Homo sapiens: one gene and its partners. The protein of the gene in region 3 interacts with the protein of the main gene of each other region in a pairwise test. Each region holds a gene or a part of one and is shown on either strand. Other genes may lie near its edges.

Region 1 (4,255 bases), on a different chromosome or scaffold from region 3:
CTGATCATTTGAATCCAGTGCCCATGTTTCTAACCACAGCGCTCTCCTGCTTGTTATTATATTCCCATTAATTTCACGTGAGGAAACTCGACTCAGGACAAGCGAATTGTTTGAGGTCCCAGCTGGTAAAGAAGTAGAGCTGGCAGGTCTCTCTTCCCAGCTATTTGGTGCCCTGGCATCGCGGGCTGAGCCAGTAGAGTAAGCTAGTGAGCAAGAGAGCAAATGTATGGGGCTTTCCCATGCCACTAATATCGAGGAGACAGTGGGCTGGGGACACCCTATCTTCTATCCCTTACTCCTCCCTCTAAAAGACTTCTGGCTCCCCCGCAAAGCCTTATTGAGTCAGGCCCGGAGCGATGGGTGTGGTGCTGCCCAGTATTTCCTTCCTTTGCCTGAGGCTGTGCCAAAAGAGCAGGCTGCTAGAAGAGGAGCCTCGACCTAGAGAGCAGCCCAGAGTCCACCAGGTGGCCGGAGATTTGGGCCAATTAAGTAGGGGGTTGGAGGTAGTAGTAGGAAGACCTGAGGTCAGTCTTGCCCTGGCAATTCGTGCCAGCAAGTGAAGACCCAACACTTGCATGAGGAAGGGATCCAACGAGGAGCTCATTAATGGGAAATATTCAGGAGCGCGGCCGAAGGGTTTGCGCCATTGTTGGTGAGTTGTTAAGACTTGGAAGAAAACTGACTTCAGTAAGCTTCCATTTCCACCCCTCGATGTGAGGAAATAAGATCAGGGCTGACAAACAGTGATGACTAATAATACCTTAAGCTTGCACAGCATACTTTACAGTTTACAAAACACTCTTATTTGATCCTCACAACAGCCAAGAGGCGACAAGGTGGCTATTACTAATTATCCCTAGTTTCCAGACCTGGAAAACTCTGGCTCAGAACTTGGGTGACACGGGTAGGTTACCCCGCCTTTAAGTGACCAAGCCGAGACTTACTGTGCCGCTCTCCCCCTTGGAAGCCTAGTGATGTGCCTAGGTAATGAGCAGGTAAAGTCGCTGACGCTGGGCAGCAGCTAGACGGCGCTGAAGCTCCAGTAAGGAATTTGGCATTAGGACCCAGCAGAAGCCTGGCCGCCCGCCGCGGAAAAGACTATTGGATTTGCTCTGCCGACCACACCTCCTCCCGCCCCGCCTACCTGTCCGTCTTCGCACAGCGCAGCCAATTGGTGGCCTCCACATCCTTATACGTCATTATTCTACGCCCAGGTGGCTCTAGGACACCCTGTGGTGCTCTGGGTCGCAGTTGTCCTCAGAGTTGCCTGATTGGAAAAATCTCCAGGGCGAGGGATCAGTCTCGAGGCTGCCGGTTCCCCTGGCCCTCAGGGATGGAGCCAAGGTCCCAGGGCGGGTTTTCTTTCCTAGGAAGTGGTTGCTGGGTTCTGAGGAGTTTCCCCCTTGGCAGCCATGAGCCGGCAGTTCTGGTAGTGACTGCTGGGCCCTGCTGGACAGCGGTCGCATGCAGCTCCTATGAGGCCCCTGCCGCCGGTCGGCGATGTCCGGCTGGAGCTGTCGCCTCCGCCGCCGCTGCTGCCGGTGCCGGTTGTGAGCGGGTCTCCAGTCGGCTCCTCTGGGCGTCTCATGGCCTCTAGCAGCTCCCTGGTGCCCGACCGGCTGCGCCTGCCGCTCTGCTTCCTGGGTGTCTTTGTCTGCTATTTTTACTATGGGATCCTGCAGGAAAAGATGTGAGCGACCCCGGGGGCGGGCCGACAGTCTCTCCCCAGCCTGTGACAGGGATCCCGGGCCTTCTGCCTCTGGACCCGGGCTTTCCTCTTGTCCTCCTGCCCGGCTGTCGCCCTCTTAGCACCCTACTACTTTTGCAGCTATGGCTGAGCCTACCCAGAATTCCAGAACTCCAGGATTATTTTCTGGATTCTTCGGACTTGGTTATTTTCTTTTCTTAGCTGTTTTTCCCCGCTTGGTTCTAAGGGCCTGCGTTTTACAGGCTGAGACTTCTATTCCTCAAACAGGACCCGAGTCGGCCCCCTTTTGGTACTCCCAGATGCTTGCAAACAACCTATTCGTCCTCGGCCTTGGTGCCATAGCCGAAATACCGTCTCCTCCTGCCTGGGGTACCTGATTTCACTATCTCGTTCTGCATGTTTCCTCTCCGTCTTTTTCGGGTATTCTTTTCTTAGGCTTTGGAATCAGTAGGCTGGGATGTCTAGTTTCTAGATCCAGTAAAATCAGCCCCTTTTGCAAATGAGCCTAGTGGTCCTTAACAAACTCTGCCTACATCCAGAGAGGCAAGATAATTTTAAAGTTTTCAGTGGCTCGGGATATATTAGATGACAGTGAGTGAAATACACTAATTTCTCCCTCTTTTCTCATGCATTTCATTTCTAGAACAAGAGGAAAGTATGGGGAAGGAGCCAAGCAGGAGACGTTCACCTTTGCCTTAACTTTGGTCTTCATTCAATGTGTGATCAATGCTGTGTTTGCCAAGATCTGTGAGTACCCAGATAGTAATTTGTTGGGTACCCCACCACCCCAAGTTCCCTCAGTATGCTGGGCATTAAGCATTGATTCAACCTTAAAGGCTAACTCATGATCTCCACCCCATTTTGTACTTACACAGCCTCTCTGTGAAGTCTGTAAAACTAATGACTTTGAAGTGGAGTAAAATATTATTTCCCCAATTTTTATCAGCTTCTGAGTTAGAAATGTTCAGAGAATGGGTCTTCTATATTCCAAATCCCCATTGAAAATACTTAAAACATTTTTTTCTTTCCCTTTGAGTTTCTTTTGTGTGTCAGCTTCAAGCATGCTTTGAGCATTCTCTCTTTGTTCCCTGGGGACTAGCAGCAGAGCTGACTGGTCCCTTGAACTGAATGAGGCCCCCACCTCCACCCTGCATGTGGTCTTTTGTTGGGCTTAGGTAGAATTGGAAAGATGAATAATTTTCAGAGATTTCCCAGTGTAACAGGACAGAAATAGCTTGTGTCTTGTTTGACAGACAAGTTCCTTTCATGTGGCTTCAGCTTTGCTTAGTGGTCCATCCTAGCCCCACCAGGTTTCTCTTGTTTTTTTTTTTTTTTCTTTTCTTTTCTTTTTTTTTTTTTTTTTTTGTCTTCTCCCAGTGATCCAGTTTTTTGACACTGCCAGGGTGGATCGTACCCGGAGCTGGCTCTATGCTGCCTGTTCTATCTCCTATCTGGGTGCCATGGTCTCCAGCAATTCAGCACTACAGTTTGTCAACTACCCAACTCAGGTGAAACCTCAGGGTGGGATGATGGTTGGCTCAGATATCATTTGAAAAGGACTAAGAGTTCTTCCCTCAGGTCTGTGAGTTAAAAAAAAAAAAAAAAAAAAGATAACGGTCCTGTAAGACATTGGGAGTGTATAGAACCATAGAACTTACGTTTAGTGGTGGTGGGTTGGGCCATGATAGGGCTGCTTTCTGAGGCTGAGGTCTCTGGTGCAGGCCCTGTGCTTACTCATCTTAATCAGTGCGGTACCTAGCATAGTACCTGACACATCACAGATGCTCAGAAATTATTTGCTGGATTTAATTTCAGGTCCTTGGTAAATCCTGCAAGCCAATCCCAGGTAAGCAAAGAAGATGGTCTTCCTCTTCTGTCGTCACTCTTCCTATAGTAAGCTCTCTCTCTGCTACAACTGTGTCCCTCTCGGCTTCATCATCCCATCATGGCTGTCTCCAGGGACTTTCCCCCAGCTCTCCCTGCTGCCCATCCTGTCATCTGTGTCACTTCTTGTGATGTTCATAGGCTGGTAATCCTTAATAGGAGCTAAAGGCTGACCTAGCCTGCTTCACTTGGTCAGCCATTTCTGTGTTGCATGTGTTTATATTGTCATTAGACAACTTAATTCCCATTTTGATCATCAGTTTCTTTATCTCAACTTCTTTTCCTTCTCCACTGTTCCCTACCCTTGTCCTGTCCCTTCCTGGACTTTTCACCTTTGTTCTCTACCTCCTCCCTGTCTTATACTTAACCCTGTTGCTCAATCCTTATCTAGGTGCCAGCCTGGCACCCTCCTTTTGTCCTCTCTAAGCCTTCCTTCTCAGTCATTCTTTTCTCCCTGAGTCTTTTCTTGGTTCCTGGGAGGGAGGGCATTGGGGTCATCAATACCTTATGGATGCCTGAATTTTCCACTCTGTTTTTTCCCTGTAGTCATGCTCCTTGGGGTGACCCTCTTGAAGAAGAAGTACCCGTTGGCCAAGTACCTGTGTGTGCTGTTAATTGTGGCTGGAGTGGCCCTTTTCATGTACAAACCCAAGAAAGTTGTTG
Region 2 (3,500 bases), on a different chromosome or scaffold from region 3:
TACTCCTTGGGAGGCCGAAGCAGGAGAATCCCTTGAACCGGGGAGGCAGAAGTTGCGGTGAGCCGAGATCTTGCCACTGCACTCCAGCCTGGGCGACAGAGCCAGACTCCGTCTCAAAAAAACAAAAGATGCCGTGTATTATTTTGTTATTAAATAATGTTAGGACAACATTGCATAGCTGTCAAAGCTGTATAAACTTAAAATGGGACCATCAATTTTAGATTCTAAAGGCATAAATTGGTCCTGCCAAAATTTATTGATAGAAAGAGTCTTACAAAGCTGTTGTTGAAATCAGTCATGTGACCAGGAGCTCTGGTATTCCTTACTTCTCTTGTCACAGGTAGATTAATTACCGCTAGCAGCATTCTTCTAGTTAGGAAATTGTTGCAGTTTATTGCCACTTTTGCATTTAAATGGAAGTAGTTTGTTAGCTGCCTTGTTATATCTTTTTGAATTGAAAATGCTATTATTATGAAATATAATCAGTTATCGAAAATCTTTGGCATCTTTGCTGTGGAAAGAAACTGAGTACATTTGAAGTAACCCAGTTTTGGAGTAGAATTAGACTTCAGAGCTATAAGGAACCCAGACATTGTAAAGAGTTCAAGATGTCAAGTGGTTTTTAGAATCTGACCTATGTATCTGGCATCAACAGTTTATAGTCATTGAAGTGGTTTATTTTGAAGTCCTTGTGGATTTTGATTTGGTAGATCAAATGAGTAATGACTGTAATATTTGCTACAATTAGTTTGGCTTTTAGTGATCACCTAACATATTCCTTCTCCCAGTTTATAGCAAATGATATACCTAAAATAGCCTTTAAATCTGTGTGTATATGTATTTTTAGATTTTCTAAAAATTACAGATATCTTTGAGAATCGGAGAAAAGCTGTGTATCCTCTTTCTAGTAAAGTACCCATACAAACATTGTTATGCTTTTTTTCGTTTCGTTTTTGTTTTTTTGTTTTGTTTTTGAGACAGGGTCTTGCTGTGTCAACCAGGCTAGAGTGCAGTGGTGTGATCTCAGCTCACCGCAACCTCCACCTCCTGGCCTCAAAGCAGTTCTCCTGCCTCAACTTCCTGAGTAGCTAGGACTACAGGCATGTGCCACCAAGCTCGGCTAATTTTTAAATTTTTTTGTTGAGATGAGGTCTCACTATATTGCCCAGGCTGGTTTCAAGCTCCTGGGCTCAAGCCATCCCCCAGCCCTGACCTCCCAAGGTGCTGGGATTACAGATGTGAGTCACTGTGCTCAGCCCATACAATTTTACATACACTTAAGGAGTCCACACACCTCCCATGCCTCCTTAAGCTTATGCATGGACCCCAGAATAAGGTTTTCAGGATCCCAATTATTCAAATCTGAGAGATCTCTGAATTTCTTACTTCGTAAGTCATGCTTTACTTTGCTATGATTTTTTTCACTTAGCCCCAGGAATATCAATACGAAAGACACAGGATAAATCAGGAATGGGAAATTGTAAGTTGATAGTGGGATTATGTTAAGGGACAAATTTAACAGTTTTTAAACTCTTTATGAGATTTGTCTGTCTTTTGGATTACTTTACATTGGAAATTATTGCTTTACAGATACTTCATGTTTTATAATACTACTTTCAGAGATTATCGTGATGCTTATTCAGTCATTTTTTAAAACCCTAAACCCTTTCTTTTTCTTCAGATGTGGCACCATTTATTGAGTTTCTGAAGGCCATACAAGATGGAACAATAGTTTTAATGGGAACATACGATGATGGAGCAACCAAGTATGTAAACTTTACAGAACTTTTTGGAACTATAATTTGTAATTATAAAAGCAATACATTTTCATTAAAAAAAAATCTGTAACATAGAGCAAAGTAATCAAACTACCAGGTAAACACAACTAACAATTTTTGTTTTTACTTTGCCTCCTTCCTGGTTTTATATGTAAATGTTTATCACACATATATTGTCATGAAATTAGAATCACATCATATGTAACATTTTTTATACTTTTATGTTTTGTTTTTTAACATTCTGAAATTGTTTTTCCTAGCATTAATATTCTTCAATAGCATTTTTATGGTTCATCAGCAGTTATGGGCTCACCTTTAAAGTTTCCCTATTATTATGTCATTAGGGTAAATTTCAAGAAATGGAGTTAATTGTCAAAGATACAGGTGTGCTATATTTTAAATAATTTTAATATATAGTAGTTTTATAACTTTTTCTTAAAATAGTATATGTTGTAAAAATTTGGAAAATTATAGAAAAGCGCAAAGAGACCAAGTTCCAGTCCATCTCACTACCCAGTGTAAACATTGATGATATTTTAGTTTCTATTCCAGATGACTTAAGACACATTTTTTGGCATTAAATATTTAGAATGCTAGTATTTATAGCATATCTCTTCACTTACGTGGTGAATATTTCCCCTTATTATTAAATATTCTTTATAAAAAATTGTTTATGCCTGCCTAGTCTGGTTTTTAAAATGTCATGATTTATAACCTGTTTAATGGGTTGCCTATTGCTGGACCCAGACTAGTTCCAATTTGCATACTTAGCACAATAGACTATCTTAGAAATGTTTGAACAGTCCATGTCTATGTCTTTAAGATAGACTTCTTTTTTTTAAAGTGGAAATGATTAATTAAAGGATGTGCATGTTTTTAAAAATGGATTTTAAAAATTTTTTTACCAATTTTATATTTTTCTCAGAAGTTCCATGGCACCAATTGTTAATTTTTTTAAGTTTCAATTTTAAGAGTTTGAAAAGGTATCTTATTTTAATATGCCTTTATTATTGAGATTGGATTTTTTTCACAAGTGGTTTTTTTTTCTTTTGCCTTTTTATGTAAATTGTCTTTTGACCATTCGAGTTGGCCTATCTTGACTTGTAAGACCCCTTCACGTTTTAAGGATATTAACCATTTCTAATGTAAAAAGAAATGTATTTATTGTACATTATTTGCTTTTAATTTTGTTAGTGTAGGGTGCTTTTTGAATTTTAGAATTTTAGACTAATGCCTATATAGTCTATGTATTTTTCTATCACTCTCCTTGTATACTTGAGAAGTATTTTTCCACCTCCAGGTTAGATATTTAGTAGATTTTCTCTTCCAGTGATTTCACTGTTGTCATGTATTTTTAAAAACCCATTTGTAATTTCCCCATGACACACAATGCCTATGTTCTTATGTAGATTTGGCTTTATCTCTGGAATTTCTGTTCTGTTCCATTCACTTGACCTGTTTATCTCTGTTCCAAAAAGACACTATTTCAATTATTTTAAAATTGTTTTATAAAAGTAATTGTACTTCATGCCTCTCTGGTTGAGATTAAATCCCCTTTAATGTTCTTCTTTCTAGAAAAAAATAATTTTTTCTCTGACTTTTCTTCAGATGACTTATCAAGGATAAAAAACATCCTTTATAGATTTTAATTGACAGAGCTTTAATACTACAAGATTTATAGATTTTATAGATTTTAATTGACAGAGCCTTAATACTACAAGA
Region 3 (2,370 bases):
TGGAGACACGGGCAGCGCTCAGGTCCCGGCCCAGGAAACTCAGTGGCTTTTATCCCGTTTCCTTCAACCCCAGATGTGAGCCCTCTGGCCAACCTACCTAACCCACCTGCCCCCAGTGGCATTCCGGTCTTTCCAGTCTGTCCAACACACGGCAGCCACAGAACACTGTCTGCACGCCAGGACTAGAGCCCTCCTCCCCGCTGAGAGGCTGGGACCAGCCCGAGGAGGAGCCGTTTTGGCTTCCCGCTCTGGCTCTTCACCACCGCTGCGGCGAACGCTCTTCAGAACCCACAGCGGCGCCTGCCTGGTCTCTGTGTTTTCTGCAGGGTGAGTGAGTATAAGCAGCCAGGAAAGGCCAGGCGCGGTGGCTCACGCCTGTAATCCCAGCACTTTGGAGGCCGAGGTGAGCCATCCCTTGAGTTCGAGATCAGCCTGGGCAACGTGGCGAAGCCCCGTCTCTATTAAAAATACAAAAATTAGCCAGGCCTGGTGGTGGGCACCTGTAATCCCAGCTACCCAGGAGGCTGAGGCAGGAGAGTCGCTTGAACCCAGGAGGCAGAGGCTGCAGTGAGCCGAGATCACGCCCCTGCACTCAGCCTGGGCAACAAGAGCGAAACTCAAGCCAGTAAAGTCGGAGACTGCATTGGTTCCTTCATTGCTGAGAGTTACTAGAACAACAGTCCTGTCTGGAGGAAGTACAGCAGGTAACTGAGACCCTCCACCTACAGCAGAGCTGGGTGCATTCCCGCCACAGTACTACACAGAAATGAGACTGCTTTCACCTACACACAGGACAAAGAGGTCAGACCTAAGAAGCCCTGCTTTGACTCCGTTTATATTCAGTGAGCAACAGGCAGACTCGTCAGGCCAGACAGCAGCACCACAGGGCGCCTGTGCTGGGGCCTTTGGGGGCTGCAGGCTGGTGGTTTCTGGACCTGAACAGTGACTACGTGGGTGTTTGTGAAAATGCACCAAGCTGTAACTGATGATCTGGACTTCAGGAAACAGGTTACGAATAAATCACTGCAACCCAGAATCGCCCCACGACATGCCATGACAGGAGTCACACAGTCACATCACCTACCCCAATCCGATGGCCAGCAAATGAGAGAGCAGCAGAGATGGAAGGAAAACTTTCAGAAATTCTGCAGAGAATATGCCCCCTTTCTTCATGACGCTCGTGTTCCTCATGCTGAGGGTGGCCGTGCGCTTCGGGTGTTTAAAGAGGAACTCCCTGAGGCGGGAAGAAACGTGTCAGCTGATGTGTCCTCTGTCAAGGGGTGCCCCCGTGACACTGAGAACACACTCACTTGGGGGGAATATTTTCCGGCCGACTTGACCAATCCCATATCCAATCTGAGTTTTTCTTCAAGATGCTTTCAACTTCTTTCCTTCTTTCAATATCATCTTCCTCAGACTAAGATAAAGTCAATGTTAAAGGCAGATCAGTGTACCACACGTGACACGGGAAAGCACCCAGCTCCCACCCGAGCTTCAGATCCGCAGGCTCAATTCAAGAGCCCAGAGGCACATGTCAGTGCCTCGGACCGTGGTCCAAGGGGAGTCCTGGGGCTGGGGGCCTTCCCCGGGCCGCGCCGCACTCCCGGCTCACAGCACGCTCGCCGCCTCCAGGGACAGATCACCTCTGGGGGAGCCCCACTCAGGGCGTAAATACATTTGGTTCACTGTGAGATTCTGGGGGTACTGACAGCGGCAAACACTGTCCTAGGGAAGTCACGTGACATGAGGGCAAAGATGGTGACGGCAGCACTGGTTATAAGAAAAGAAAATGAAAACAGCCGAAAACGGCTCAAAACAGGGACATGACGAAGGAAGGGACACTGTATAGTGAGCAGGTTTACAAGATGCTTCCGGGATAAGCAGGAGGGAAAAGGCAGAAATGTCCACATAACCACAGCTGCGGCCAAATCCTCAGAATTATATAACAGCACGAAACATTAAAGAGGATTTTAAATCTGAGAGTCTAAGTGTTTTTCTCTACTTTTTTGCATTTTCAAAATTCTGTACCTGAACATCTAATTCCTTTTAAAACTAGGGGAAGTTTTGTGTAAAACAGTGAAAACGGCAAGACCCTGTCTCAAAAAAAAAGAAATAAAATTGAAAATACTCAAGAATATAGCTCCCCAAACCCACCAAACATCTGGGTACACCCAAGCTGGGTACAGCCCCAAGTGCCCAGGAGCAGGCCGCACGCCCTGGATGCACCCACACACCCACAGCCAGGGCTCCTGGGGCTCCCGAAATCATGCTGCCCCTCGGAGTGGGGCCAGGGGATGTCCCTGAGAAAGCCTGGGTAACAGGGACTCCTTGTTTCCTTGGTGAAGAAAGCCTTGAGGGAAGCGCTAGCAC
Region 4 (3,500 bases), on a different chromosome or scaffold from region 3:
CACTGTTCTTTTCATCCTGTCAATTAGTAGGCCACTTCCAGGTTAGGCATTCAGTAAATCTTTCAGCTTATATGGAGAGACAGCCTCCATATGTACAAAACTACTTGAGTATTGCTAAGGTAACATTTTAGAGCCCTGTCTTTGTACCTTAATAGCCTACAAGCCCCTTCTGACCCTAGAAATAGAAAAGACTAGTGTGCGTTTTGCCTTTCCTTAGAAGAAATTGGCAATGATGCCTTTACAGAGCAATCAAGATCAGATACTATGAGAGTTAAGTATGTTTTTCTGGCTTTCTGATTTTGTTTTGTTCTTATTTTTTATGTGTTTGTTTGGAACTTTCGTATTGAGGTATAGCATACAAACAGTACATACAGTCAAGTATGTGGTGTTACTACTCAGATTGAGATATTAGATCTTAGCTCTCTAATGCTTCAGTATACCCTATCAGAGATGACCATTTTTTTTTACTATATAATTTTTAACCTATTCAATGTAATATTTTATTAGGTAAAAAGCTGCTTTTTTCAAGACTTTAGGAGTCTTGAATCCCCATGAAATGCATTTTTAAAAAGCATGGGCTGGGCATGGTAGCTCACACCTGTAATCCCAGCACTTTGGGAGGCTGAGGCAGGCAGATCACTTGAGGCCAGGAGTTCGAGACCAGCCTAGCCAACATGGCGAAACCCCGTCTCTAGTAAAAATACAAAAATTAGCGGGTGTGGTGGCATGTGCCAGTAGTCTCAGATTTGGGGGTGGCTGAGGCACGAGAATAACTTGAACCCAGGAGACAGAGGTTGCAGTGAGCCAAGATTGTACTGCTACACTCCAGCCTGGGTGACACAGCAAGACTCTATCTCAATTAAAAAAAAAAAAAAAAAAAAGTATGTTATAGTACAGGGATGGTGTATTTATCCAGGATGATTTTACTCCTTATGTTTCTAAATGTTATTGCTTATCTTATGCTCATGTAAGGTAATTAAAAAACTAATTAACATTTCAATTTTAAAAAGGTATATAGCTGTCCCTTTAATGTGGTCACATGATAATTATTACTTAAGTTAGGTTTTATCCGCTTTTAAGTAAGTATGTGTAGAACTGAAGTCCAAATATACTGCTTGTGCTTTTTTATTCTGGGAAAAAAAACTATCAAATTACTGTATGTTTTTTCTTTTTGTTTTAAGAAGTCAGCACTCTAAATAATTGTATTAATCAAGTGTTGTGATTGTTTCTAAAGGTGTTACTAATGGATTGAGAGGCCAGTCTGTTTTAGTTGTGATTTTGTTATTACCTGGTTGTTTCACCTTGAGCAGAACCGTTAACTTCAGTGTATCTTAGTTTCCTCATTTAGAAAATTTAAGAAGTTGGATGACGTATTCTCCAGCTGTTCCAATGACAGGAATCATGATTCTGAATACATAGTAATTCTCCTCCTTTGACAAAGAGAAGGCAAGGAAAAGCTAAGACATGAGATTCCATTATCAGTAATGTTATTCCTGTAAGTGTGTGCACATATGCACACACATATGTATGTTTGCCTGTGTATTTCTTGTGACTTGATTTAACATGTGGTCTGTTCTACCTCTCAACAGTGGAAAAATGACTATCTCTAATGGATTAACAGATTTTTTTCCCTCTTTCGTGTGTATTTTGAGGCTCTTAGTCGGGACATTGTCATAGTTACTTAAGTTTTCAACTTTAACTTGTGCCAAAACTCATCTTAAGAAATTTTTAAAATTAAATAGTGATTATTAGGGTAAATATATGCAGTACATATATAGTATACAATATATGCAATACATATATAGTATAGGTGACTAAGATGTATAAGAAAAATTTGGAAATTAAGAACCATGTTTAAAAAGGATACAGACCGGGCGTGGTGGCCCACACCTGTAATTTCAGCACTTTGGGAGGCTGAGGGGGTGGATCACTTGAGGTCAAGAGCTCGAGATTAGCCTGGCCAACATGCTGAAACCCTGTCTGTACTAAAAATACAAAAATTAACCTGGTGTGGTGGCAGGCACCTGTGGTCCCAGCTACTCAGGAGGCTGAGACAGGAGAATTGCTTGAACCCGGGAAGCGGAAGTTGCGGTGAGCTGAGATTGCACCATGGCACTCCAGCCTGGGCAACAGAGCGAGACTGTGTCTCAAAAAAAAAAAAAAAAAAAAAGGCTACCAAAATAATGCCAGTTTTACCTTTTTTTTTTTTGAAATGGAGTCTCACTGTGTTGCCCAGGCTGGAGTGCAGTCATGTGATCTCAGCTCACCGCAACCTCCGCCTCCCAGGGTTCAAGTGATTGTCGTGCCTCAGCCTCCTGAGTAGCTGGAACTACAGGCATGTGCCACCGCACCTGGCTAATTTTTGTATTATTAGTAGACGCGGGATTTCACCATATTGGCCAGGCTGGTCTCGAACTCCTGACCTCGTGATCTGCCCGCCTCAGCCTCCCAAAGCGCTGGGACTACAGACGTGAGCCACCGCGCCCAGCATAGTTTTATCATTTTTAGAATCTTTATTCCTATCATTGCTATGGCTGTAGTTTTCAATTCCTATATCATCTCTTTCATAAAGACATATATCTTGTTATTTAATCATAGGGAGGCAGTATGAGTGTGATATTTAAGGACTGAGACACTACAACCAGACTCTTTGGGTTCAAATTCCAGTTCTATAACTTATCAGTTCTGTATCTTTGGCAGCTTACTTAACCCCGCTGTGCCTTAGTTTTCTTATCTGAAGTAGAGACAAAATAGTACTTGCTTCAAGTCCTTCCCAGGGTTGTTGTGAGCATTGAATGAGTATTACATGTTAATCACTAAGAAGAATGCTTTTTATGAAATATAAAGTAAGCTATTACAGTATATTGAAATGCTATTGTGAAATCAGATTTCTGTTTTTAGAGAAGTTCTGAAATAATGTTTCTTTTCACTAATTGTCCTAGTTTCCTAATGGAAGTTGGCTTTCTAGAAAGTAACAAATAATTGATACAAGATTATGATGGTGTTAATGAGTTTTTAAAACAGTATTCTAACCAGAATATGAACACTGTTCTAATTTAAGTGACATAATATTGTTCAAAAATGTCTTCGTGTAGATTGTTTTAACAGCTCTTTTGAGCTCTAATTGAAATGCAATAAACTGTATATAATTAAAGTATACAATTTGATTAGTTTTGATGAATATATATACACTCACCTATGAAACCACCACAACTGAAGCCGTAAGTATATCCATTACCTCCAAAAGTTTCGTCATGTCTGTCAGTGATCCTTCCTTCCCACTTCTCCCTGCCTCATTACAAGGCACTGCTGATATTTTCTGTCACTCTATATTTGTTTATAATTTCTCGAGCAACCTTGTCCAGTCTGCTGCCTGTGGGCCTCATATAGCCCAGGATGGCTTTGACTGCAGCCCAATGCAAATTAGTAAACTTTCTTAAAACATTATGAGATTTTTTTGCAATTTTTTTAGGCTTATCAGCTCTGGTTAGTGTTAGTGT

What was found. The genes of interacting proteins can lie anywhere in the genome.
Region 1: the proteins of BNIP3 (region 3) and SLC35B1 interact in binary tests that used the Homo sapiens proteins (3 or more experiments, as listed by UniProt).
Region 2: the proteins of BNIP3 (region 3) and FAM3C interact in binary tests that used the Homo sapiens proteins (3 or more experiments, as listed by UniProt).
Region 4: the proteins of BNIP3 (region 3) and EBAG9 interact in binary tests that used the Homo sapiens proteins (3 or more experiments, as listed by UniProt).

What each region holds. Positions count from the first base shown.
Region 1 is NC_000017.11:49,705,165-49,709,419, reverse strand, and holds the start of SLC35B1 (solute carrier family 35 member B1), read left to right. Parts: upstream 1-1,455; 5' UTR 1,456-1,475; coding exon of another isoform or gene 1,476-1,586; coding exon 1,587-1,690; intron 1,691-1,975; coding exon of another isoform or gene 1,976-2,077; intron 2,078-2,351; coding exon 2,352-2,455; intron 2,456-3,085; coding exon 3,086-3,216; intron 3,217-3,523; coding exon 3,524-3,554; intron 3,555-4,138; coding exon 4,139-4,255.
Region 2 is NC_000007.14:121,358,309-121,361,808, reverse strand, and holds part of FAM3C (protein FAM3C precursor), read left to right. Parts: intron 1-1,681; coding exon 1,682-1,766; intron 1,767-3,500. UniProt on the Homo sapiens protein: May be involved in retinal laminar formation. Promotes epithelial to mesenchymal transition.
Region 3 is NC_000010.11:131,969,554-131,971,923, forward strand, and holds part of BNIP3 (BCL2/adenovirus E1B 19 kDa protein-interacting protein 3), read right to left. Parts: intron 1,981-2,370; exon of another isoform or gene 1,418-1,980; coding exon 1,311-1,417; exon of another isoform or gene 1,235-1,310; coding exon 1,085-1,234; exon of another isoform or gene 102-1,084; coding exon of another isoform or gene 74-101; intron 1-73. UniProt on the Homo sapiens protein: Apoptosis-inducing protein that can overcome BCL2 suppression. May play a role in repartitioning calcium between the two major intracellular calcium stores in association with BCL2.
Region 4 is NC_000008.11:109,543,173-109,546,672, forward strand, and holds part of EBAG9 (receptor-binding cancer antigen expressed on SiSo cells), read left to right. Parts: intron 1-3,500. UniProt on the Homo sapiens protein: May participate in suppression of cell proliferation and induces apoptotic cell death through activation of interleukin-1-beta converting enzyme (ICE)-like proteases.